2 separate regions of the Homo sapiens genome follow, and region 1 is linked to region 2. A link means that fine-mapping ties the variant in region 2 to the expression of a gene that starts in the linked region. Tissue or cell type: tibial artery. Region 2 holds a variant in brackets; the other region holds the start of a gene. All regions are shown on one strand. Distances are between the middles of the regions.

Evidence for each region. PIP is the estimated chance that this variant, and not a neighbour inherited with it, causes the effect.
Region 1: it holds the start of TMEM170B, and the variant in region 2 is fine-mapped to the expression of TMEM170B in tibial artery (GTEx, PIP 0.99).

What each region holds. Positions count from the first base shown.
Region 1 is chr6:11,531,980-11,544,092 of GRCh38, forward strand. TMEM170B (transmembrane protein 170B) reads left to right here and starts at 5,770. Exons shown (of 3, transcript NM_001100829.3): 1 at 5,770-6,395. The coding sequence starts at 6,299. RefSeq lists silencers at 5,234-6,063, 6,094-6,253, 6,354-6,433, 6,444-6,723 and an enhancer at 6,063-6,564.
Region 2 is chr6:11,510,534-11,522,646 of GRCh38, forward strand. It overlaps LOC105374928 (a long non-coding RNA gene), which reads left to right. Exons shown (of 5, transcript NR_187824.1): 5 at 12,098-12,113. It also overlaps the pseudogene THAP12P5. Among named protein-coding and RNA genes, the nearest start is that of TMEM170B, 21 kb to the right of the region's middle. RefSeq lists an enhancer at 4,520-4,569. The variant T/G (reference allele first, on the strand shown) is at 6,250.

The sequences.
Region 1 (12,113 bases), 21 kb after region 2:
GTCTTCAAATCTCCTGAATTTCTCAGATGGTTAATTTTGTGTGTTAAATAGAATTATGGTTAATTTTATGTGTCAACATGACTGGGCCATGGAATATCCAGTTATTTGGTCAAACATTATTTGGGGTGTTTCTGTGAGAGTGTTTTTAGGTGAGAGTAACATCTACATTGGTGGATGAAATAAAGCAGACTGCCCTCCCTCATGTGGGTGCCTCATCCAATCAGCTGAAGACTTGAATAGAGTAAAAAGGCTCCCCCAAGGCAGGCAGAATTCTTGCCTAAGTGTCTGAACGGAAACATTGCTCTCCTAGTTCTCAGGCAATGCAGTCTCAGACTGGAACTACACTATTGGCTCTCCTGGATCGCCAGCTTGCCAACTCACCCTGCAGATCCTGGGATTTGTCAGCCTCCATAATCGTGTGAGCCAACTTCTCATAATAAATGTCTTTCTATACATAGGCAACCTATTAGTTCTGTTTCTCTGGGAGAATCCTGACTAATACTCTTTCCCTAACTAAAATGCTGCATACAGTTGGGAGCCCCTGAAACCCATTTTCTTACCAATGTTTAGTAAATGGTCTAGGTTTGGGAGAAGAATAGGGCTATTTTTAATGGGCATTTGTCACTAAACTTTCATTTCTCCTGTATTCTCAATTTTATCACTTACCTTTCCTTAATACTATAGTTTCCACCCTACATTAAATTATTTCTTCATGCCCAAACATCACTTTCCACACTTTTACTAAAGGAAACAGTGTTATGGCCCAGGAAGGGCAGGTGACTCCCAGACAGCATGGATCTAAGTGGCTGGGAGCCAGGGGTCGGGGGAGAATTTTCACTGATTGCACGTCATATCATGAGAGTTTTGAGTCATATGAATTCATCACACTAAAAAAAAAAAAAGGTGGGAAAGAGGTAGATTCTTGCCCATCAAGAAAATCCTTCACAATTTCTTTCTGCTTGTTCTTTAAAATAAATAATTATTTAGAAGATTGCCATTTCCATACAGTTCTAAAAAATCTATTAATATTTAAATATTACAGTAATAAAAACTAGTATTCATTGAGTATTTACTGCTCCAGACTCCACTCTAAGCACTTAATTACTAAGTACTTTGATCCTCAGAATATCTCAAGGAAATATTATAATTAAATATATACTATCTATAATGAATAACAGATATATTATACATATAATAGAATATTATAGTTCAAATTTTACAGAGGAGAAAACTGAAAGTTACAGAGGTTAAGTAACTCACTGAATGTTGAATGTTCACTCCTGGTAAAGCAATAAAATCAGGATTAAAACTTAGGTAGTTTAGCTGTAGAAGTAAGAAATAGAAAAAAATATATACTCTTAAATCTGATGGAGAAGGGGAGGAAAAGGAGGTTATAAGGAAGTGGAGTTATATGATTTTAGGATTGCTGAGAGTGGATGGTCACTAGATACATTCTAAACAGAGGATGAAGTGTATATCAGTTATGGTCACAGAGATTACTATAAAATACAAAAACAAAACCAATCCTTTCAAATTATAAGGAACATAAACAAAGCAAAGGAAACACAAACCATACCCATGAAATACTTTTTTAAAAGAAGCAACAAAAATAGAAATAATAATATAACTATGATGCAAGTAATACCACATATTTATTATATCAACGACTAGAAATTATCTAGAAGTTCTTCTATTAAATTAGAAATTTCATATTGGAATACGATGTCAAACTCCTAAAACAAAATTATTCAAAGTTGAAAAAGAATGGAAAAATACATATCAGGCAAATGCAAACAGAAAGCAGGACTTAAGACCTTAACATCAGACAAGATTCACATAAATTTTAAAAGCATTTTATAATGGAAATTAATATATTTTTAATTTAAGAAAGCAAAATCACAAATCTTACATACATATGTGTTCACTAAAACACATAGAATCAAAATTCGTAAAGCGCAAACTACAAAAAGTACACAGAAATATAGGCTGAAATATATTATTTGTAGAAGACTTAACCTCACTCAGCCTGTGTTAAGACTGCATTATTTGTTCATTACCATTTGTTGCCCCCTCCCATTCATTCTTTCCATCCTTCTCTGTAGGCAGAATATACTTTTTTATCCCATTCACTTAGGGGCTTAACTATGCAATCTGCTTCAAACAAGGGAATGTGGATATGTGACATGCATGTGACATGGACCCCATATCTGAGCATGAACTTTAAATGCACCTGTGTAGTTTAGCCCTGCCTCTCTTGTCCATGCCAGAGCTGGGATAAGGATGAGGTGGGTGAGACAAGGTCTTGCAAGTGCAGGGTGAGATTCTGTGTTTATTTAAAATTTTGGTATTTCATTAATCATGGATTTTTGCATGAATTTTTATTTTTAAAAATATTATATTAGTATATTATTTATCTTGATAACAGAGTGTTTCAGAGTCTGTTGTCAAGACTTGCAGGCAAGGCTTTGCAGGCAAGGCCAGTGTCCCATTGTAGCCCTGGTTCCAGCCCTATACCATGAGAATGGCATGTACTCAGAGCGTGACATCTTCCTCAGCCTCAGGTATGAAATGAGAAGACCTGTGGAGCTGGACTGAGCTGAATCAAGCTGAATCAGTCTAGATTTTGGACTTGCATGGGGCCTGTAGCTCCTTTGTTGTGGCCAATGTCTCCCATTCGGAATGGCTGTATTTATCCAATGCGTGTACCCCCATTGTATCTAGGAAGTAACTAACTTGCTTTTGATTTTACAGGCTTATAGGCGGAAGGGACTAGCCTTGTTTCAGATGAGACTTTGGACTGTGGACTATTGAGTTGATGCTGAAATGAGTTAAGACCTTGGGGAACTGTTGGGAAGGCATGATTGATTTTGAAATGTGAGGACATGAGAGTTGGCAGGGACCAGGGGAGGAATGATATAATTTGGCTCTGTATGGTTTTATCAAGGGTCTCCACTTTTGCGTCTTCCTCATTCTCTCGTTGCCTGCTGCCACCCATGTAAGACGGGACTTGCTCCTCCTTGCCTTCCACCATGATTGTGAGGCTTCCCCAGTCACATGGAACTGTAAGTCCAATTAAACCTCTTCCTTTATAAATTGCCCAGTTTTGGGTATGTCTTTATCTGCAGCGTGAAAATGGACTAATACGTTAAGTTGATACCAGTAGAGTGGGGTGCTTCTGAAAAGATACCTGAAAATGTTTTTCTCAAAAGATCAATATCATTTTATATTTTAATTGATTTTAAAAAGCTTTCCTCTAGGTTGTCTCTGGACAGTTTTAAAAATGACTAAGGCTAATGGGTGTTCCCTCACTTACATGAGAGAAATAAACCAGGAATTTTGGTTTATGAATTACGTTTGTGAATTGTTTCATGCTGAAGGGCACAGAGTTGAAAGGAAATTTTTGGATTCACTTGGGGTGGTCCCTGATTTCTGACAGGAACGTGACTAAACTCTTCCTGAATTGGTGTATTAATTCAAAATAAAAAATCTGTAGGAAAGAAATTCCAAAACTTTCATTTGTATTAACTCAGTTTTGGGTTTCATAACTCTGGCTGTTGGGAAAATGTCTAATTCTCTTAAGGATATAAGCTTCCAACACAGTCAAGATCATTACTTTTATCAAGGAAAACCTAAGTAGCCTAGAGAGTAGAGATCTTATCTTCAAATGTTACAGATAACACCTTGCACAGAACATTACAGATAGTAGATGCCAAATAAATATAGACGCCAATTAAATTGAACTGAACAGCAGGGGTGAAGTTGTTGGGCAGCAAATAACATTACTGACTTGAGACTTCATTGCTGTGTCTTTCTCATTTCCTGACATGAACACTTGGATTCTGTAAAAAATATTTATTCAGAACAAGAACAATGCTGACTTTTCTATGAAGATCATTCAGTGATTCATTCAACAAATATTTGTGGTGCAGGTGCCAGGCACTGTCCCAGGTTCTGAATATTTTCACTGCGTGCTACTGTGTTTTAAATAATAGTGTGCAATCCTAAGAACGTAAACTAACTAAAGGTTTCTGATATGAGAGTTTAATGAGCCCCTGCTCAGGGAGTTTGCTGTGAACCCTTCACTGAATGTGGTCACATTCCCTAACATCACTAATTATGTAATGCCAAGTCCCTTAAGAATATCATTAGGTAACCTGCACTTCCCCATCAAGAATCTTAAAGTGAGGGAGTTAACAGTGGGTTAAGAAAGATAATGTGGTTGCTAGAAAGAATAATAGACCAGGAATTCAGAAACTGAGCTGTGAAGTGCTGTCATCTCTGTCAAGTCACTTAATTCACAGAATCTGTTTCCCTATCTGTAAAATAAAATTAGAAAAATGTTAAAGCGCTCTTTTAGGTTTGATATTCTGTAATCTTGTTAATAGATCTAATTAAGTCTAAATTCTAGGAGGAAGATAAACTCTACATTAAGAGTTTTGGCTCAATTCCTATTAATGGTGCAAAAATTTCTCTTATGTTGTGACATCAAAAAGAAAATACAAATAAACAAAGAAATAAATGTGTATGTAAATATTATTTTAAAGTGGTCACCAAGAGCACCATTTGACAGGTAATTTGACCCTTCAGTGCTTTGTCAAATATACTTCATGATTTAGCTACAGCAGGTATTTCTTCACTTCTCTTTGTAAATTTTTCTTTATCCAGATGGCAGAGGGGTTGAAAAAAGGTGGGGGGAGGGGCTGGCTACTGCATATTTATGTTACTGCTAAAACTTAAATTTTTATTTTTTAAAGTTAGAAGGTTTCCAATTTCGAGGAGTTTAACTTGTAGTTGGATTTTAGATGCTCCTCTGGCTAACGCTGGACATGAAGACAGACAGCAAAGCGTGGGGAGAGAGATCTAGTTTAAGTTCGAGGGAAAAAAATAACAGACGCAACTTAGATAAAAGAATACTACCATCAAAAAAAGGGGGGCTAGAGCCGGCGATGGCCTTGAGGATTAGGACACCTGCCGAGCCTGGAGTAAACAGGTAATGTCAGGCAGGTCCTGGAACCCCGGGAGGCCCAAGTTCTTGCTGCGGGAAGAGGGATTAGCAGAATGATAACGCAGGTCTGTTTGTGTTTTAGGGGTTTTAACATGCATTCTGCAAGTAAGTGACCTATCCAGGTCATTCGATTCAGGCTCAGAAAAAAAACCCCGCAAATTAATATATCTAAATGCTGAGATAGTGACACCTTTTTAAAAAAGTTATACATAAGCATCTTTATCAAAAAGCATTACATTTTAAGGCAAAAATCTGAACTGTCACAGTATCCACCTCACCGAGTTCAGCAGCCCCACCTTGGGTCAGGGCTGCCCCTGCAGCGCGGGCCCCCGAAATGCCCGCACCGCCCACGCCGCCCGCACCGCGCGCACCCAGCCGGGCCAGGGCGAGGGATCCAGGTCTCCCGGTCTCTCAGGGCGCGCGCCCGGGGTCCGGGGGTGGGGGGCGTGGAGGCGGTTCCCTTGGAGCGCCCAATCAGCAGTAAGGCCCGGCGGTGGCGCCAGTGACGTAGACCGCGCTTCCCTCCGCCCCACTGCGGGCCGTCGCTCGGCGCCGTCAGCCACGCGCGCTGCAGCGCGAGGGGAGAGCGAGAAGGAGGGCTTTGGGGCCGACCGGCTGTTGGAGGGCGGCGGGTCGCGGGGAGCGGGGGAGTGAGCATGCGCAGCGGCTCCGGGGAGCGCAGGGGAGGAGGGGCCGGCGCTGAGAGGCGCGCGCGTGCGCGTGCACGAGTGGCCCGCCGGCGGCTGCGGGTGGAGGGGGCGGTTCCTCGAGTGTCGGCGACCCGAGGGCGGGCAGGCGGGCGGCAGGTGCCGCCGCAGCCTCTGGCTGGTCCCGCGTCTCCGTCCTCCGGCGGCGATGAGCTGGGCCCTGTCGGGGGCTGCACCTGCCGGCTGCCCATCAGCACCGGCCTCCTGGCGTGACCTCGGCCTCCTCGCGTGTCCAGTCCCCGCGGCGCGGCGCTGCCCCTGAGAGGGAGCGGCGGCGGCCTCCTCCGCCCCGAGTCCTCGCTCGGGGGCCGCGCGAGGACGGCGCCCGGCCCCCTCCCCTCCTTCCTCCGTCCGCCGTCCTCAATGTCTCCCCGGCGGGGAGGGGGCTGCCTGGGAGACACGCTGAGCGGCCCCCCCACGGAGGCCCTCCGGCTGCAGCAGCAGCAGCGCCCGGCCCGGCGTCCCGCAGCCTCCACCAGCGGCGGCGGCCTGGAGGAGCCGCGCACCCGCCGCCGCCCCCCGAGCCTCGCAGCCGCCGCCGCCGCCCGGCACCCGAGGAGAGGGCGGCGGGCGCCCCTCGGGGAAGATGAAGGCGGAGGGGGGCGACCACTCCATGATCAACCTGTCGGTGCAGCAGGTCCTGAGCCTCTGGGCCCACGGGACGGTGCTGAGGAACCTCACGGGTAATTGACGCGCCTGGGCTGGGGACGGGGATGCGGTCCGCCCCTCTCCTGTCTTCTCCTTCCTCGGGAGGGGACACGCTCCTCGCCGCCCCACCCCCGTGCGCGCCCCGCTCGGAGCTCCAGGTCCCGGCGAGGAAGGTGTTAATCGGAGCCACTCTGCGCGTGTCCCGGGGGCGCCGGCTCCCGCCACCCCCTTCCCTGAGTCGCCAGGGGAGCATCAGCGACCCCCGCTCCTGCCCCGCACGGGGAGAGCTCCCGGTGGCGGCCCGGCCTCTGTAGTACGCGCGGAGTAGCTTTAGTGCTGAGACTTGAGCGCATTTCGCTTTTATTCCATTACCCTCCTCCCCTCCCCCTTCTACACACATCGCTTCTTGCTATTTACATCTTTTTCTGATTTAGTTCTTTTTCTTTCTGGCAAATCTCAAGCCAAATGTAGAACCTAAAATCATTGCCCACAATGGTCGATTTACTTTTTCAACCGCTAATTTTTTGGGCGATGTAGATAACTGAGTAAATTATAGTGGGTCAGGGGCTGAGCTAAGGTCTAGTGCGGTCTAAGCGTGTTAGCTTCATATATCTCCTTCCCCTCCCATTTCCTTTTGTCTGTCTGTCTCTTTCCCTCAGGCCTCCAGCTGCTGCTTCTGAGACATTTGATAATTTTGTGTATTTCCCTTCATTTATTAAGGCTGTCAGTAATTGGCCTTATAACATCAATTTCTATTTGTAAAAGTGAGTGATAAAACACACAATATTTTTATTCAGTCTGTAGATTTGCTTTGTGAAGAAACTTCTGGTTTTGTTATGTGGAAATGCTTACATTATACTTTGAGTTCCGAATTTAAAAATTATTCTCTGAAGTAGAATTTACGAGAAAGAGATTCAGTTGCGATTTGGTGACTCCTCAGTGCCTGCTTTTCAGAGGAAAAAAATCTTAAAAAAATACTCAGAATTTAATTCTTGAAAATGTGTAAGGCAGTTAATTTCAGTAGAACATTAGTATTTCAAAATGCATTTTGTCAAACTGGTTAAAGTGTTGTGAGTATTTTACAAATATAACCTGGGTTCATATATATAACATATATATAAAGTCTGGCATGGTATAGAATACAAACATTCATAGAAGAAAATTTTATGGAATTATATACCACAAAAGACAACTTTAAGGACACTGGTTTCTTCGAATGGAAACTATACAGTTAAAGTAGATTCTGGATTGCTTCATGCTATCCTCACTTTTAAGCTGTGGTTATTTAACTTGAAACAGACTGACTTTACATGATGATTGCCGGTAAGGAATATATTGTTATAATTCTGGAAAACTAAATGGACATAAAGACCATCTCATGATTCAGTTGAATTTAGAGGTAGACTGCTTTATCTTACTTATGATTTTGCTTGCATTTATCCACTGTTTGGTATTTGAACTGTACCAGTTTTTGTTTAAGTGAAATGAAAAGTAGGGACTTAACATATATTTGTGCAGGCATACCTTGGAAAGATTGCAGGTTTGGTTCCAGAACACCACAATAAAGCAAATATTGCAATAAAGTGAGCCAAATGAATTTTTTGTTTTCCTAGTGCATGTAAAAGTTACATTTTACCTGTAGTCTTTAAATGTGAAATAGCATTATGTCTGAAAAAAAAGTACAGACGTTAATTTAAAAATACTTTATTGCTGAAAAATTGCTAACGATCATCTGAGCCTTCAGCAAGGACGTTATCTTTTTTCTGGTAGAGGGTCTTGTCTTTGTGTTGATGACTGCTGACTGATCAAGGTGATGATTGCTGGAGATTGGGATGATGGCAGTTTTCTTAAAACAGCAATGAAGTTTGCCACTAAGGAAGAGCAATAGACTCTTCCTTTCATGAAAGATTTCTCTGTAGCATGGGATGCTGTTGGGTAGCATTTTATCCACAGTAGAACTTTCAAAATTGGAGTCAGTCCTTTCAAACCCTGCTGCGGCTTTATCAACCGAGTTTATCTAATAGTCTAAATCCTTTGTTGTCATTTCCACGGTGTTCACATGATCTTCACCAGGAGTAGATTGCATCTCAAGAAACCACTTTCTTTGCTCATCCATAAGAAGCAACTCCTCATCCATTCAAACTTTATCATGAGATTGCAACAATTCAGTCACATCTTCAGGCTCCACTTCTAATTCTAGTTCTCTTGCTATTTCGACCACACCTATGGTTACTTCCTCCACTAAAGTGTTGATCCCCTCAAAGTCATCCATGAGGAATGGAGTCAATTGCTTTCCAACTCCTATGAAAGTTGATATTTGGACCTCTTCTCATGAGTCACGATTGTTCTTAAGGGCATCTGGAATGGTGACTCCTTTCCAGAAGGTTTTCAATTTCCTTTGCCCAGGTCCATCAGAGGAATCACTATCTCTGGCAGTTTTAGCCTTCTTACACAGTGTATTTCTTAAATAATAAGACTAGAAAGTCAAAATTACTCTTTGATCCATGGTCTGCAGAATGGATGTTGTGTTAGCAGTCATGAAAACAACATTGATCTACTTGGACATCTCCATCACAGCTCTTGGTTGACCAGGTACATTGTCATTGAAGAAAATACTCATTAAAATGAAAGGAATCTTTTTTTTTTCTGAGCAGTTCTCAACAGTGGGCTTCACATATTCAGTAGGCCGTGCTGTAAACTGATGTACTGTCATCCAGGCTTTTTTGTTTCATTTATAGAGCACAGCCAGGGTAGATTTAGCATAATTCTCAAGGGCGCCAGAATGGTAAATGAGCATTGGCTTTAATATAAAGTCACCAGCTGCATTAGCTCCTAAGAAGAGTCAGCCTGTCCTTTGAAGCTTGGAAGTCAGGGATTGACTTCTCTCTAGCTGTGCAAGTCCTAAATGGCATCTTCTTCTGATATAAGGCTGTTTAATCTACATGGAATATCTGTTGTTTGGGGTAGCCACCTTCATCAGTTAGCTAGATCTTCTGGATAATTTGTGCTTCTACATCAGCATTTGCTGCTTCACCTTGCACTTTTATGTTATAGAGGTGTCTTTTGTTAAACCTAAAGAACTGACATCTGCTAGTATCAAACTTTCTTTTGCAGCTTTCTCACATCCCAGCCTGCATGGAATTGAAGAGAGTTGGGGTCTTTCTCTGGGTTAGGCTTTGGCTTAGGGGAGTGTTGTAGCTGGTTTCATCTTCTATTTAGACCACTCAAACTTTCTTCATATCAGAGAGCAGTCTGTTTTGCTTTCTTATGATTTGTGTGTTCACTAGTGTAACACTTTTAATTTCCTTTAAGAATTTTTCTTTGCATTTGCAACTTGGCTGTTTGGTACGAGAGGCCTAGCTTTCAGCCTAACTCATCTTTGAACGTGCCTTCCTCATTAAGCTTTATCATCTCTAGCACTTGATTTAAAGTGAGATATCTGACTCTTTTTTTCACTTGAACACTCAGAGGCCAATGTAGGATTATTAGTTGGCCTGATTTCAATATTGTTGTATCTCAGGGAATAGGGAAACCCGAGGAGAGGGAGAGAGACTGAGGAATGGCTGGTTGGTGGAGCAGTGAGAACACACAAGATTTATCGAGTAAATTATCGAGTAAAATAGTAACATCAGAGATCACTTATCACAGATCACTATAATAATAAAATACAATAATAAAATAATAATAAGATAATAAAATTTGAAATATTGTTAGAATTACCAAAATGTGACACAAAGTGAGCCCATGCTGTTGGAAAAATGGTACTGATAGACTTGCTTGACACAGAGTTGCCTCAAACTTACCATTTGTAAAAGCCAAAATAAAGTGAAGTACAATAAAACAAGGTATGCCTGTAGATATTAATCACTGGATTAGCTCATCAAAGGGTTTTTAGAGAAAGTTAGCTTTGGGAGCCATAGAGTAAATGTAAATGTAACTTAACTCCTGGCCAGCTTCAACAATATTTTTAAATAAGTAAGATTCTAATGATTATAATTGCCTCCAGTTCTGCAAGTCAACCATTAAGCTGATAATAGTAGTTATTCATCCAGGGTTAGCTCCAATATGTCTTTCAATATGATCTTAATACTTGCCAGTTGCTCATTGGACCTTGCCATTTCATAAAGGATATGCCGAACATCCCAAACTAGGACTGAGGCGGGACTGAGGACCATGGGAACCTCTACTAGGAAATAACTACTGTCTGAATATGTGAAATTCTAGGCGTCAGGATAAAAATGCAGAAAGAAACAGATTAGAAATATGTTTCACTAGTGGTAGAGTGTACCACGTTAGGAACCACATCTCTTCTCAACAGTGGCAGTCTATAAGTGATAATATTCTGATGGGATTCATTGTGGCCTTCTCCATGCCAGTGACCTTAGTGATTTGGTGTGTATCTTAATCATTAGTTAACAGATGCTGCCTACAGTGCCATTTACAACTTTGTCTGCTCAAAAGAGGCGAGTAAACACAACTTCTGAAACATCTGTCATTTGTTGAATGGCCGCTGTGTGTTAGGCACTTTACATATATTATTTCTAATCTTCAGAATAACTCTTCAAAGTACATTTGAAAGGAAACTCAGAGAGGTAAATTAAATTGTCCCAAATCTTATAGCTAGTATATGACTGAGCTGGGCTTTAGACCCAAGTCTTTGCCTCTAGACTCCTCTTTCTTCTTTACCATGCTACTTCAGCTACTTCCTCCTTACTTTCTTCACGCAAAATTAATTTCTTGCTTCATCTTGCTACTTCTGCTCTTTGTACATATTTTTATTATGTTTTTCAATTACGTTATAATTTGTATTTATCTCTTCTAGACTGTGAGCTTTTTGAGGGTCAGTCCATTGCCTCACCTTTGAATTCTTATACCCTAGCATTATAGTACCTGGCACGTAGTAAATGATAAATATATGTTTATTGAGATGAATTTTTAAAATTTTAACAGTTGCTTGATTTAAACATTCTATATTGCATTGTTTCTCATCTGCATCTCTTGGAGTGAATATGCTGTTAAGGAAGAATGAAGTGTTTAAGCAACTCATATAAATCATTTTTATACATACCTTTAAAACATGCAAATGCTTATTGAGAGTAGTTTTCTGTGTTGGGTATAATGCTTTCATATATTTTGTTTAATCTTTTAGGCAATCCTGAGAGATTATTGTTCTTATTTTACAGATTCAGATACTGAAGCAAAGAGTAACTTGCTTAGATCTGATAGCTAATAGTGAAAAAGTCATTATCTTTTTTCATAATATGATAACACATATGTTAACTCAGAAGGCATTTTTTCGTCATCATAAACTTGGAAATGAAACTAATAGAAAGGAGCATAGTCTAGAACCAGTACTACTTGGATTTAAGAAATAACTGTGTGAAGGATTTGCACAAATTTGCTTAATAGGCATTCTGATTAATTGGATACCAAATGAAAGGGAAATATGCTGTCACTAGTGTTTTTTTCCCATGTACAAAGAGATGTGATGTGATTTTTCACCTTGTGTATTATCCCAATAGGTGAAGTGGGAAAATATACTGACCTTTTTATCTTAGAGACTGACCTCTAGAAAGTAGTCTTGTTTATATATTACTTTGATAAAAATAAATTCTTAAAAAGTAATAATGAGAACTACAAACATCTTAACATTTTACAGCCAGAACGACTTAATTTTAGAAATATTGAAATATCACTCCATCAGTGAAGTGACATGGCTGAGATCAGTTATTTAATGACAGAGGCAGGACTGG
Region 2 (12,113 bases):
ATATTCATGTGATCCACAATTACTAGATTTATGAAGAAACAGAGAAATGTGATCTCAAGACAAAAGGCAAATAAGTGAAGACTGACACTGCGATGACCCAGAGGTTGGAATTAGCACATAGGGATTTTAAAACAACTATTATAACCATTCCAAGGATTTAGAGAAAAACATGCTCACAATGAATGAAAGGAGAGAAAATTTTAGCAGAGGAATCAAAACTACAAAAGAGAAACAAATGAAAATCCAAAAAATTTTTTAAAACCTGTATTTAAAATTTGCAAGATAACTTTAACAGTAGATTAAAATGAGAAAGTCAATAAATTTGAAGATAGAGCAATAGAAAGTAGCTAACCTAAAAAAAACAAGAGAAAAGATTAGAAAAAAGTAGAGTCTCAGTGATCTGTGGAAACAATGTGGAAAGGTCTAGCATATGTGTAGTTGTAGTCTCAAAAGAGGAGAGAGAGCAAAAATATTTGAGAAAATAATTGGAAAATATTTCCCAAGTTTGGTGAAAGGCATACATTTACAGATATAACTATAACAAACCCAGTGAAGCCCAAGCAGGAAAAATACAAAGAAAACCACATGTATGCACATTAGAATCAAACTTCTCAAACCATGGTTAAAGAGAATCTCTTGAAAACAACCACAGATTAACCACAGATTAACATATTCCATAATGTAGAATGATATGAAATAACAATAATTTCTTATCAGAAACAATGGACACAAGGAGACAGTGGAATGACATTTCTAAAATGGTGAAAGGAGGAAAAAAGTCAACTAAATGCAAAAAAAAACATTTGAGGATGAGGGCAAAATAAAGATTTTCAGGTAAATGAAAATAATTTTTATTAGCAGACCTACAGTACAAGAAACACAAGGGAAATTCTTTTTTTTTTTTTTTTTTTTTTTTTTGAGACAGAGTCTTGCTCTATTGCCAGGCTGGAGTGCAGTGGTGCAATCTCAGCTCATTGCAACCTCCGGCCCCTGGGTTGAAGCGATTCTCCTGCCTCAGCCTCCTGAATAGCTGGGACCACAGGTGTGAGCCACCACGTCCAGCTAACATTTGTATTTTTAGTACAGACGGGGTTTCACCATGTTGGCTAGGATGGTCTCAGATCTCTTGACATCGTGATCCGCCCACCTTGGCCTCACAAAGTGCTGGGATTACAGGCATGGGCCACAGCGCCTGGCTAGAAACACAAAGGAAGTTCTTTAGGCAAAAGGAATTAATGCCAGGTGGACACTCAGTCTTTAGAAAACAATGCAGTGCCCCAAATGATATATAGGTGGCTAAATATTAAGATTTGTCCCTTTCTCCTAATTTGTTATAAATAAACATGACTAAAGAAAAATCTATATTTGCTTTAAACCCCACATTGTATTGTGGGATTGATAACATTTTTAGATGAAGTACATATGACAACCAAAACAGAAGAAGTAAATGAACCTCTATTTTCAGAAAGATTCTGCTTTACACAAAATGGTCCAATATTAAATCTAAGTAGGCTGTGAAAAATCAAGAATGTAAACTATGACCCCTAGAGCAACCACTTGAAACAATATAAAGTTATATAACTAAAAAGCCAACAATTCATTAAAAAATAATTCTCAAAAAAATTGAATTAAACAAAAAAAATTGAGAAAGTAGTAACAGAATTTAAAAACAAAAAGCAGGCAGGACCAACAGAAAATAGTAGTAAAACTGTTGGTCTAAACTCAACTCTGTCAATAATTCAATTAAATGGAAATGAACTAAATGCTCCAATTAGAATTCATAAATTCTCAAAGGAGATAAATGAGTAAGATTCAACATAGTTTCTCCATTAGAGATGAACTTTAAATATAAAAATACAGATATGTTGAAAGCAAATGACAGGAAAAGATTTATTATGCAAACTGTAAGCCTAAGAGGGCTGGATTGGCTATATTAATATCAGATGTAATAGATGCCACAAGACAAAAAGTAAAAACAGACATACTGTAATAATGAATAAATTTGCATAAAGACACAATAATTATACATGTATATGGGCCTAATAAAACAGGTTTAGGATACGTGACATGAAAGAGTAACATAATTAAAGGGAGAAAGAGACAACTCCACAATGATAGTTGGAGATTTTTTGTGCCTATTCTGCTTATGTAATATAGTTGGAGATTTTAACATTTAATAACAGCAATTGGCAGAACAAGTAGATAAAAGATCTGAATAATGCCTTCACTCTCCTTTACCTAATTGACATTTATAGAACACTACACCCAACAATTGCGGAATAAACATTATCTTCAAGTAACATGTAATGTTTACCAAGATAAACGAAATGCTGGGCCATGAAACAAGTCTCAGCGCATTTTAAAGATTAAAATAATGCAGACAATGTTTTTGGACCACAGTGGAATTAAATTAGAAACCAAAAACAATAAGATGTCAAAGGAGGATAAAATTCACATATCTGGAAATTTAAACACATATTGTCTATAATCCATGGGTCAAAGAAAAAAGTCATAAGACATATTAAAACTATTTCAAACTGAATGATAATGAAAATATATCAAAATTTGTGGAATACAGCTAAAGTAGTGCTAAAAGAGAAATTTATACCTTTTAAATGCTTAGGATAGGAAGGAAGAAAGGTATACAATGAATGACCTTTGTTTCCACAGTAAGATCCAGAGAAAGAAGAGAAAAGTAAATCCAAAGTAAGTAGAGGGGCCGGGTGTGGTGGCTCATGCCTCTAATCCCAGCACTTTGGGAAGCCAAGGTGGGAGGATCACTTGAGGTCAGGAGTTTGAGACCAGCCTGGCCAATATGTTGAAACCCTGTCTCTACTAAAAATACAAAAATTAGCCGGGCGTGGTGGCACATGCCTGTAGTCTCAGCTACTTGGGAGGCTGAGGCAGAAGAATCTCTTGAACCTGGGGGTTGGAGGTTGCAGTGAGGTGAGATCTTGCCACTGCACTCCAGCCTGGGCTGCAGAGTGAGACTCTGCCTCAAGACAACAACAATAACAACAAAAACAAAGAAAGTAGAAGGAAGGAAACAATAAAGATATTATAAGAGGAGGAAAGTATGAAACAGAAAACAGACAAATGATAGAGGAAATTAATAGGTATAAAACATTTTGGGGTTTTTCTAGGGGAAATGACATTAAAGTTTGACATGCAGAAGAAAAGAGAAATCACCAATATCAGGAATAAGTATGTGAATATATTACAGATCCAACAAACATGAACAAGTGTATGCTAATAAATTCAACAACTTAGAAGGAATGGACATATTTTCTGAACAATACAACTTACTAAACTGACACAAGATGAAATAAAAATTCTTAACTAGTCCTATATATATAAAAGAAATTGAATTTGTTATCAAAATCTCCCTCTGAACTCTGTTAAACATTTAGGTAAGAAAAAAATAACAATTTTACACAAATGCTTTCAGAAACCCAGGAGGAAGAAACACATCCCAGTGCATTTTATGAAGTCAGCCTGATCCTGATACTAAACTTGACACAGACATTTCAAATAAAGAAAATGAAAACACGAGTCATGTTAAGTTGATTTTCTTTCCCCATCACTAACAGGAAGGCAGGAGGGCCTGAGTTTGCGGGTAGGGAGTGCGGGCTAGCTTGCTGGTAGGGCTACAACATCAAACTTGTATGCAGTTCCCAACTGCACATGGAAGAAAATGAAGCCCAATCTGGCCTTCAGGTTACTACAAGACCTTGAAAGAAGCCTGAGGTGGGTGAAGAAATGTAGAAAAATTAACTTACAAGGTAAAACACCTGATTGGCTGAGTAAACATTATTGTCAAACACTTTGAGAACTCTATGATTTATAAAACTAGTACTTACAGAAGAGTTATTTGCAATTATGCTATGCCAGCAATGGTTGATTTTACTGGTCATCTGAACAATCCACATGGTGGACATTGAAAATAAATAAGATAATTGTGATAATTAAATCAGGACACAAATGGAAAAAATGATGAAACTCCTGAATAGAAACAAACCAATAAAGAAACAACAGCAATACACAGAACTCCAATGCCGAAGAAGAAAGTGAAGAACAAAATGAAGGCATTTCACCCCTAAACTTTGAAGAGAATAAAAACAAAGATCACTTAACATTTTTATTTGAAGTTTGGTTTTTACAAAATACACCTTTGGATGAAAATGAGGCTGACCAAATCTCAAAGGGTTTCTTTTCTCCTTTTAATGTTTAAGCACTGCTGGAGTTCAGGGTACTTTCTGGTGAGGCAGTCCTGAGAAAGTTCTTTGAAACACATTATTCAGTTTGAAAACACAACAGAAACAGGTGCTTGAGATCTACAAGAGCTGCACTGGGAAGAAACGGGGAAGTGAGAGATTCACTTCTTTCCTACTGTCGCTAATATGGAGGACATAGCTGAGAAAAAGCAATCACCGGTATTGGTTAGGCTCACTGATGAATCTCAGGGCCAGAGAGAAGGATGTGGGATTTCTCCCTCCTGAAGCTGATGCAGGAAGTTTGGCTGTGAAATGTCACACTACAATAACTGAGAAGTGGGAAATGAACAAGGAATTCTGGTGTGACCTGGCTTAGATTATATCTAGTAGACTTTCTTTCAAAATGGCAATCATGGTAACTAGAACTTTAGAGAAATAATCCCAACATATCTCCACACCTTGCTCTTCCTCTGCCTTAAATATGCAGAAGTCGAAATCAGTTTTCTGTTGTGGGAGGATCATCTATTGCTTTGGGAGCAATTAAAGATGTTCTTTTTTTCTGTTGATCACAAGAGTTTTAGAGCTCAATAATATAATGTCTGTCCTCTTTCAGAACAACAAAGAAAAGGCAAATGAACTGAAGGAAATCTGCTATTCACAATGTACAGGCATGCATGATGCTTTTGAAATGTTTTTGCTAGCAATTGTTTTGTGTTTAGATGATATAAAGGTTGACACAAATGTTAGATGGAATACCTTTATAGCTGGTTGAGCTTTTGTTCTCTGTAGTGCATTAATGTTTTGATTTAATTATAAATTGTTGTTCATAAAAGTATCCTATTTTCAGAAAGACCATCTGGAAAAAATCTCCAGGGCCACACCTCTGATGTCTTCTTTGCAATAGGCAGCTTGACTGCAGCGTTGCATTGCAGAAAGAGATTGAAGATATTTACATTTATTGTAAATTTTGATTTGAGGAAGCCGCAGGGTTGACAACCATACTTGATGCTGAAATGCTGGGAAATTCCTCAAGGCTCAGCAAGATAATCTAGAATCTAAATTAACCACAGAGAATTACTATAAAGAAATAGTGCTCCACCATGAGGCACATTATCCATGACCTTAAAGACATTTTCTTAGAACAGTACCTCACAGTTCCTAAATGTTCTTAAACAGTCAAAAGCAGTTCACTGGTGGCCTCGGTCATAGAACAGCTTACACTGAACACCATGCCAATGTGTACTCAGCTGACTTATTCAATCCTGATACATTCTCTGCCAACCTTCATTGTTGGAGGTTAAGGCCAAAACGCAGAAAAAAAGACAAAGAGCTTCCACCCACCACGTATAAAACTCCCTATTTATCTCACTTAAAGTTTTTTTTTCTTACTGTCTACATGTTACTGAAGGTCCTGTGTATTCTTCCTTTTGATGAAGTTTGAGAATGAAAGCTATGAAATTGGATGAAAGTGTCTCAAACCACAACTAAGAAGCACTTCAACGGACCAGAGGTCAAGTAACTTTACACTGCTTAACATAAATGTTGATATAAAATAGGATCTTAATTTAACAGTAGACACATATATAAAAAAGCTATACATAAAGCCAGAACTTCCTACAAGTACCTAAAAACCACTGAAAATGCCTAATAGTTTTTCTTTTTATATCTGATATTTAGAGGAAAAGCTGTGAGTTGTATTTTGGCCACTTAATCACTGAATATTTACCCACGGACCTTTCACTGAATATATTAAACACTAAAAACCTGCTGTTGAGTGGCCACTATTTGAACTTTCTTTCTTTGAAGACTTTTCCTTTCAGAATTTAGCATTAAAAGAACATTCCATTTCTGTTGTTGGCAAGCTAGGGATATTTTAGTAAAGTAATTTTGAGCATAATGTCATGAATCTAATTACCAGGTATTATTAAGTTACCAGTTGTTTTAAAAAGTAAATGTTAAGGAGGTGTGAGGAGAAGGAATATATTTTATAAAATATTACAATAAAGCACAGGATTGACCATTGACTAATGGGTGT[T/G]TTAGTGTATTGTTAGAAATATGGAAAGGGTAGTTAAGGAAATTACCAACCAGCAGCAGAAACTGTGAACTCACCAAACCGAGATTTCAATGTAGATTTCGTCTTTTTTATGTGGCCATAAAGACAGAATTAGAGTTTGGATAGAAAGTAATCCAAAGATGTTCCACATCTGGTTGTTTACATTCATTTGTTGGGTTTACATCTTAACATGTTCAAAGGAAGACATACAAGTGACCCAGAAACATATTTTAAAAAAGCACAACATCACTAATCATCAGAGAAATGCAAATTAAAACCACAGTGAGATATCATCTTACACTAGCCAGAATGGCCATGATTAAAAAGCCAAAAATCCAACAAGTGCTGATGAGGATACAGCAGAAAGGGAACACTTATATACTGTTGGTGGGAATGTAAATTAGTACAACCTCTATGGAAAACAGTATGGAGATTTCTTAAAGAACTAAAAATAGAACTACCATTTGATCCAGCAATCCCACTACTAAGTATCTACCCAAAGGAAAATAAATCATTATACTAAAAAGACAACTGCACTCATATGTTTATCACAGTACTATTCATAATAGTAAAGTTATGTAATCAACCTAAGTATTTATCAATGGATGATTTGACAAAGAGAATATCATATTATATATACATATATATTACGTCTCAGCCATAGAAAAGAATGAAATTATGTCTTTTGCTCAACAAGGATTGAACTAGAGGCCATTGTCCTAAGTGAAATAACTCAGAAACAGAAAGTCAAATACTGCATGTTCTCACTTCTAAGCGGGAACCAAACAATGGGTACACATGAACATACAGAGTGGAATAATAGACACTGGAGACTGTAAAGGTGGGAGGGTGGGAGGAGGATAGGGTTGAAATATTACCTATTGGGTACAATGTTCACTATTTGGATGACAGGTACACTAAAAGCCCAGACTTCCCCACTATGCAATATATTTATGTAACAAAACTGAACTTGTATCTTCTAAATCTAAATAAATACATACATAAAACCCTAAAAAAACACTAAGTAAACTAAGAAAAGATGGAAATTTCCTTGACCTGATAAAGGATATTTATGAAATTCTTATAGTTAATATAATGCTTAGTGGTGAAAGACTAACCGTATTCCCTTCAAGATTGGACTCAGGGCAAAGATGTACCCTCTTAATGTTGTAATAGAAGTCCTAGCCTATGAAATAGGGCAAGAAAATGAAATAAAGAATATAATGTTTGTTGATGTAGAAAATTCTAAGGAACGTATAAGCAACCACTAGAACTAATAAGCAAATTTAACAATATTACAGGATACATGGCCAATACTCCACAATCGTCCTTTTATGTACTAGCAGCAAACAATTGAAAAATTTTTAAAAATCCACTTACAATAGCAATTAGAAATATGTAAAATACTTACAAATAAATTAAATAAAACCATACAAAATTTCTACACTAAAAATTACAAAACATTGTTGAGATAAATTAAGGAAAACCCAAATAAATGAAGATATATACTATGTTCATGGATTAGAAGACCCAAATGAACATGAGAAAGAAAAAGACAATTGAAAGATTTACCCTATCTGAATTCAAAATGTGCTAAAGTTAATCAAGATAGTATATGGTATTGGCATAAGGTCTAACAAATATCAATGGAACAGAATAGAGAGCTCGGAAACAGACTCACACTTACACACTCAATTAATTTTCAACAGACGCACCAAAGTAATTATACTGGGGGCAAAGGAAAATTTTTTTTAACAAAAGGTGCTGAAACAATTGGATATTCAAATGGAAAAGTTTATGCAAAAGGAATCTGAATGTTCATCAATGCTTTTGTCTGGTATGGTAATCTGATGTGTTATCCTTTCCTATTTACATATTGGTAATGTAGTATCAGCTAATCAAAGCACTGTTTCCACTAATATAGTGATATTTCTACTGCAGGGGTACTCTTTTTCTTCTTATAAAAATAATCCTTTTAAATTATAAAAGCAACAGATTTTCACCAACAACAGCTCCAAAAATAACATATCAAGTAAAAATAAAAATAAAAATAAATTCCTTGTCATCACACAACCCAGAAATCACCAAAAGTGACATTTTGAGGTAGTCTTCCCAAAATAGTTTCTTTTGCCCACAGTATATTACTCTAGTGGTCTTCCTAATCTTCTGAATATGATGTCATAAAATTTGTATAATCTCACACAAGAACCATAGGAGACAGGGGAAAAAAACATTTGGATAATGCATTTTTCAACCTAATATTAACTTGCATGTAATTTTTTTCAAGACTTCTTGAGATTCAGTTACTTTTGTATTCATGTACTATGGCAATATTAGCTTTCATTTCATGATTTCTGCATTTTCATTTACTGAAGACATAAATTCTAATTTTAAGTTATATCCGAATTGTACTTCCAATAGACATCTATTTCTGAAGTATCTGCCAAACTTATAATGACTGTTCTTTTATGAAAATAACTCTATTCCCAATCCCCTATCCAAAATGTAACTTTAATGTTAAACAAGCATGACTCAAGGAATTAATTATGAAACAAATTTGTTTTTGTCATCTACTGTCACATTAAGTTTATTGTGCATGCTCCTTTCTTCCCTTGCCCCTGATGAAATTTAGGGCAAGTCACAAAACTGAACATTTCCACATTATGGTTAAAACCACAGAAGCAGTCTCTGGGCAACCAAATTTATAGTAGATAATCAGTTCCATGGCCACAGTTGATTGTTCAAGTTCTGGCAATCTGATTTAACTTGGGCAATTAGGCTCTCACCCAAGAATTTCTAAATTAAGTCCAAGAGTAAAGTTTGTCTCTTCATGTGTCCTGCAGCCATAGCCCACTTTGTAGCCTGAAGACCAGAGAAAGGAAGTCTTTAAGGAGAAAGAAGATAGGAGAAGATGCAAAAAGGAGAAGCAAAGATGTACAAACGTACTTCCTGGATTCTGTCAGCTGTCAGTTGTTGGTTTCACTTCCTTCCAGAACTCCAGTTTCATTCCTGCCTTTTGATTCTGTGAAACCCCTCAATCATTATAATGATTAATAATACCCAACTGCAGGTCGGGCATGGTGGCTTACGCCTGTAATCCCAGCACTTTGGAAGGCCAAGGAGGGCGGATCATGAGGTCAGGAGTTCGAGACCAGCCTGGCCAACATGGTGAAACTCTGTCTCTACTAAAAATACAAAAAATTGGCCAGGCATGGTGGTGCGTGCCTATAGTCCCAGCTACTTGGGAGGCTGAGGCAGGAGAATCACTTGAACCCGGGAGGCGGAGGTTGCAGTGAGCCGAGATTGTGCCACTGCACTCTGGCCTGGGTGACAGAGGAAGACTCTGTCTCAAAAATAATAATAATAATACCCAAATCCCAACCTTTCTTTTTTTTTTTTGGTCAAGTTGAGTTTCTGTTAAAAAGGCTCAAATAATACAAAAATTAATGTGGCTTGTGGGAGGTTTTCTCCTACAAACAACCAACCAGCCTTAATCATGGTCCATATACTTTTGGCTTCACCCATGGTGATAGCCCCTCTTTTATCTATTCCCTCAATCTGAGGGTACATTTTATTTTATTTATTTTTAATAATTTCAACTTTTATTTCAGATTCAGGGGGTATAAATGCAGCCTTGTTACATGGGTGTATTGCATGGTACTCAGGTTTGGGGTATGGATGATTCCATCACCAAGGTAGTCAGCATAGTATCCGATGGGTAATTTTTCAACCCATGCTCCATTACCTCTTCCCTCTAGAGGTCTCCAGTATGTACTATTCCCATCTTTATGTTGATGTGTACTCAATGTTTAGCTCTCAGTTATAAGTGAGAACATGTAGTATTTGGTTTTCTGTTCCTGCATTCACTTTCTTAAGATAATGGCCACCAGCTGCAGCCATGCTGCTGCAAAGGACATGATTTTATTATTTTTTACAGCTACACAATATTTCCTGGTATATATGTGCCACATTTTATTTATCCAGTCCACCATCAATGTGCATCTAGGTTGATTCTACGTCTTCGCTATTGTGAATACTGCTGTGATGAACATATGAGTGCACGTGTCTGTTTTGTAGAATGATTTCTTTTCCTTTGGGTATATATCCGGTAATGGAATTGTTGAGTCAAATGGTAGTTCTGTTTTAAGTTCTTTAAGAAATCTCCAAACTGTCTTCCATAGTGGCTGGACTAATTTACATTTCCATCAACAGCGTGTAAGCAATTACCTTTTCTCCACAGCCTCACCAGCATCTGTTATTTTTTGACTTTTTAATAGCCATTCTGAATGGTGTAAGATGGTATCTCACTGTGCTTTTGATTTGCATTTCTCTGATAATTAGTGATGATGAGCATTTTTTCATATGTTTGTTGGCCACTTATATGTCTTCTTCTGATAAGTGTCTGTTTATGTCCTTTGCCCATTTTTTAATGAGGTTACTTGTTTTATTTCTTGTTGAGTTGTTTTAAGTTCCTTACAGATTCTGGATAGAGTCCATTTTAGCTGTAAACTTCTGGTGCTTCCTGCGCACTCACCAAAGTGCTGAACCTAGAACTACTTAGACCATTTCTGCTCTCATAAAAGTTCAGTGTCAAACTTTTATGTATATTTTCCTGACTAGAGAGAGTAGATTGTCAGAAAATGATTATGATTTGACATTCAGTGACTTCTGTAGATTCTTTTTTTTTTTTTTGAGACGGAGTCTCATTCTGTCGTCTAGGCTGGAGTGCAGTGGTGCAAGCTCAACTCGCTGCAACCTCTGCCTCCCAGGTTCAAGCAATTCTCCTGCCTCAGCCTCCCCAAGTAGCTGGGACTACAGGCGCCCGCCACTACGCCTGGCTAATTTTTGTATTTTAGTAGAGACAGGGTTTCACCATGTTGGTCAGGCTGGTCTCAAACTTCCGACTTCAGGTGATCCACCCGCCTCTGCCTCACAAAGTGCTGGGATTATAGGTGTGAGCTACTGTGCCCAGCCTTTCAGATTCATTTTCAAAAAGTTCTAATTCCTTCTTGTTATTCACGGAAAAGAAATCAGGTTTTGTTTGCCTTACTATTATTTACAATATAGACAATAGTTTTAATACTGTGGGAATGAAGCACTTGAGTATTTTTTGTCTTTTGAATGTCAGTGAGTTCTATTTTCAGAAATTTGGCATGGGTTCAGCATAAATTTATGTGACATATATTTAGTGATTAAGACAAAAAGAATAGCACTCACTGACATTGCTAAATAAAAATTTTCCAGTACTACCAATATAATTTATCTTGTTTATTATAGCTTTAAGAATTTTTCTAGAAAACTGAAGATAGCAGAGAATTAACACAACTCTAAAATATCCTGAAAACTAATTTTTGCTTATATGATTGAGAAAATTATCTTCACATTTCACATTGCAGACTCTGTCTACCTTCAGTGAAATATTTTTGGCTTAGAAAACTAGTGTCTAGAACACATTAGGTTTCAGAAACAGTTTTTTGGCACTTCTGTAAGAAACTCCACTCAACTTATTGTGAAATTGTATTAAGTAAATTAAGTGAAAATTGTTTAGTAAGTATTCAATATTGTGTTAGGTGGTATAGCTATTAAGGGAAAAAAAGATGAGTTGTGGCCTTTGCCCTCACTTGTCTGATAAAATAGTTGAGAAGAGACGTAAAGCAACAATTAATAAAACAGGACAGCTCAGAGTAATGTGTATGCTGATTTTTAGAAGTTCTGAGATGAGAGAGAGAAAGATGGAGCAAATATAAACATAGAAGCTAAGAACAGAGGACACGGAGAGAGCAAGTTCATCCTGCATTTCTGACCACTTTTCTGTTATTCTTTCCTTGAGGCTCCACTGAAATGAA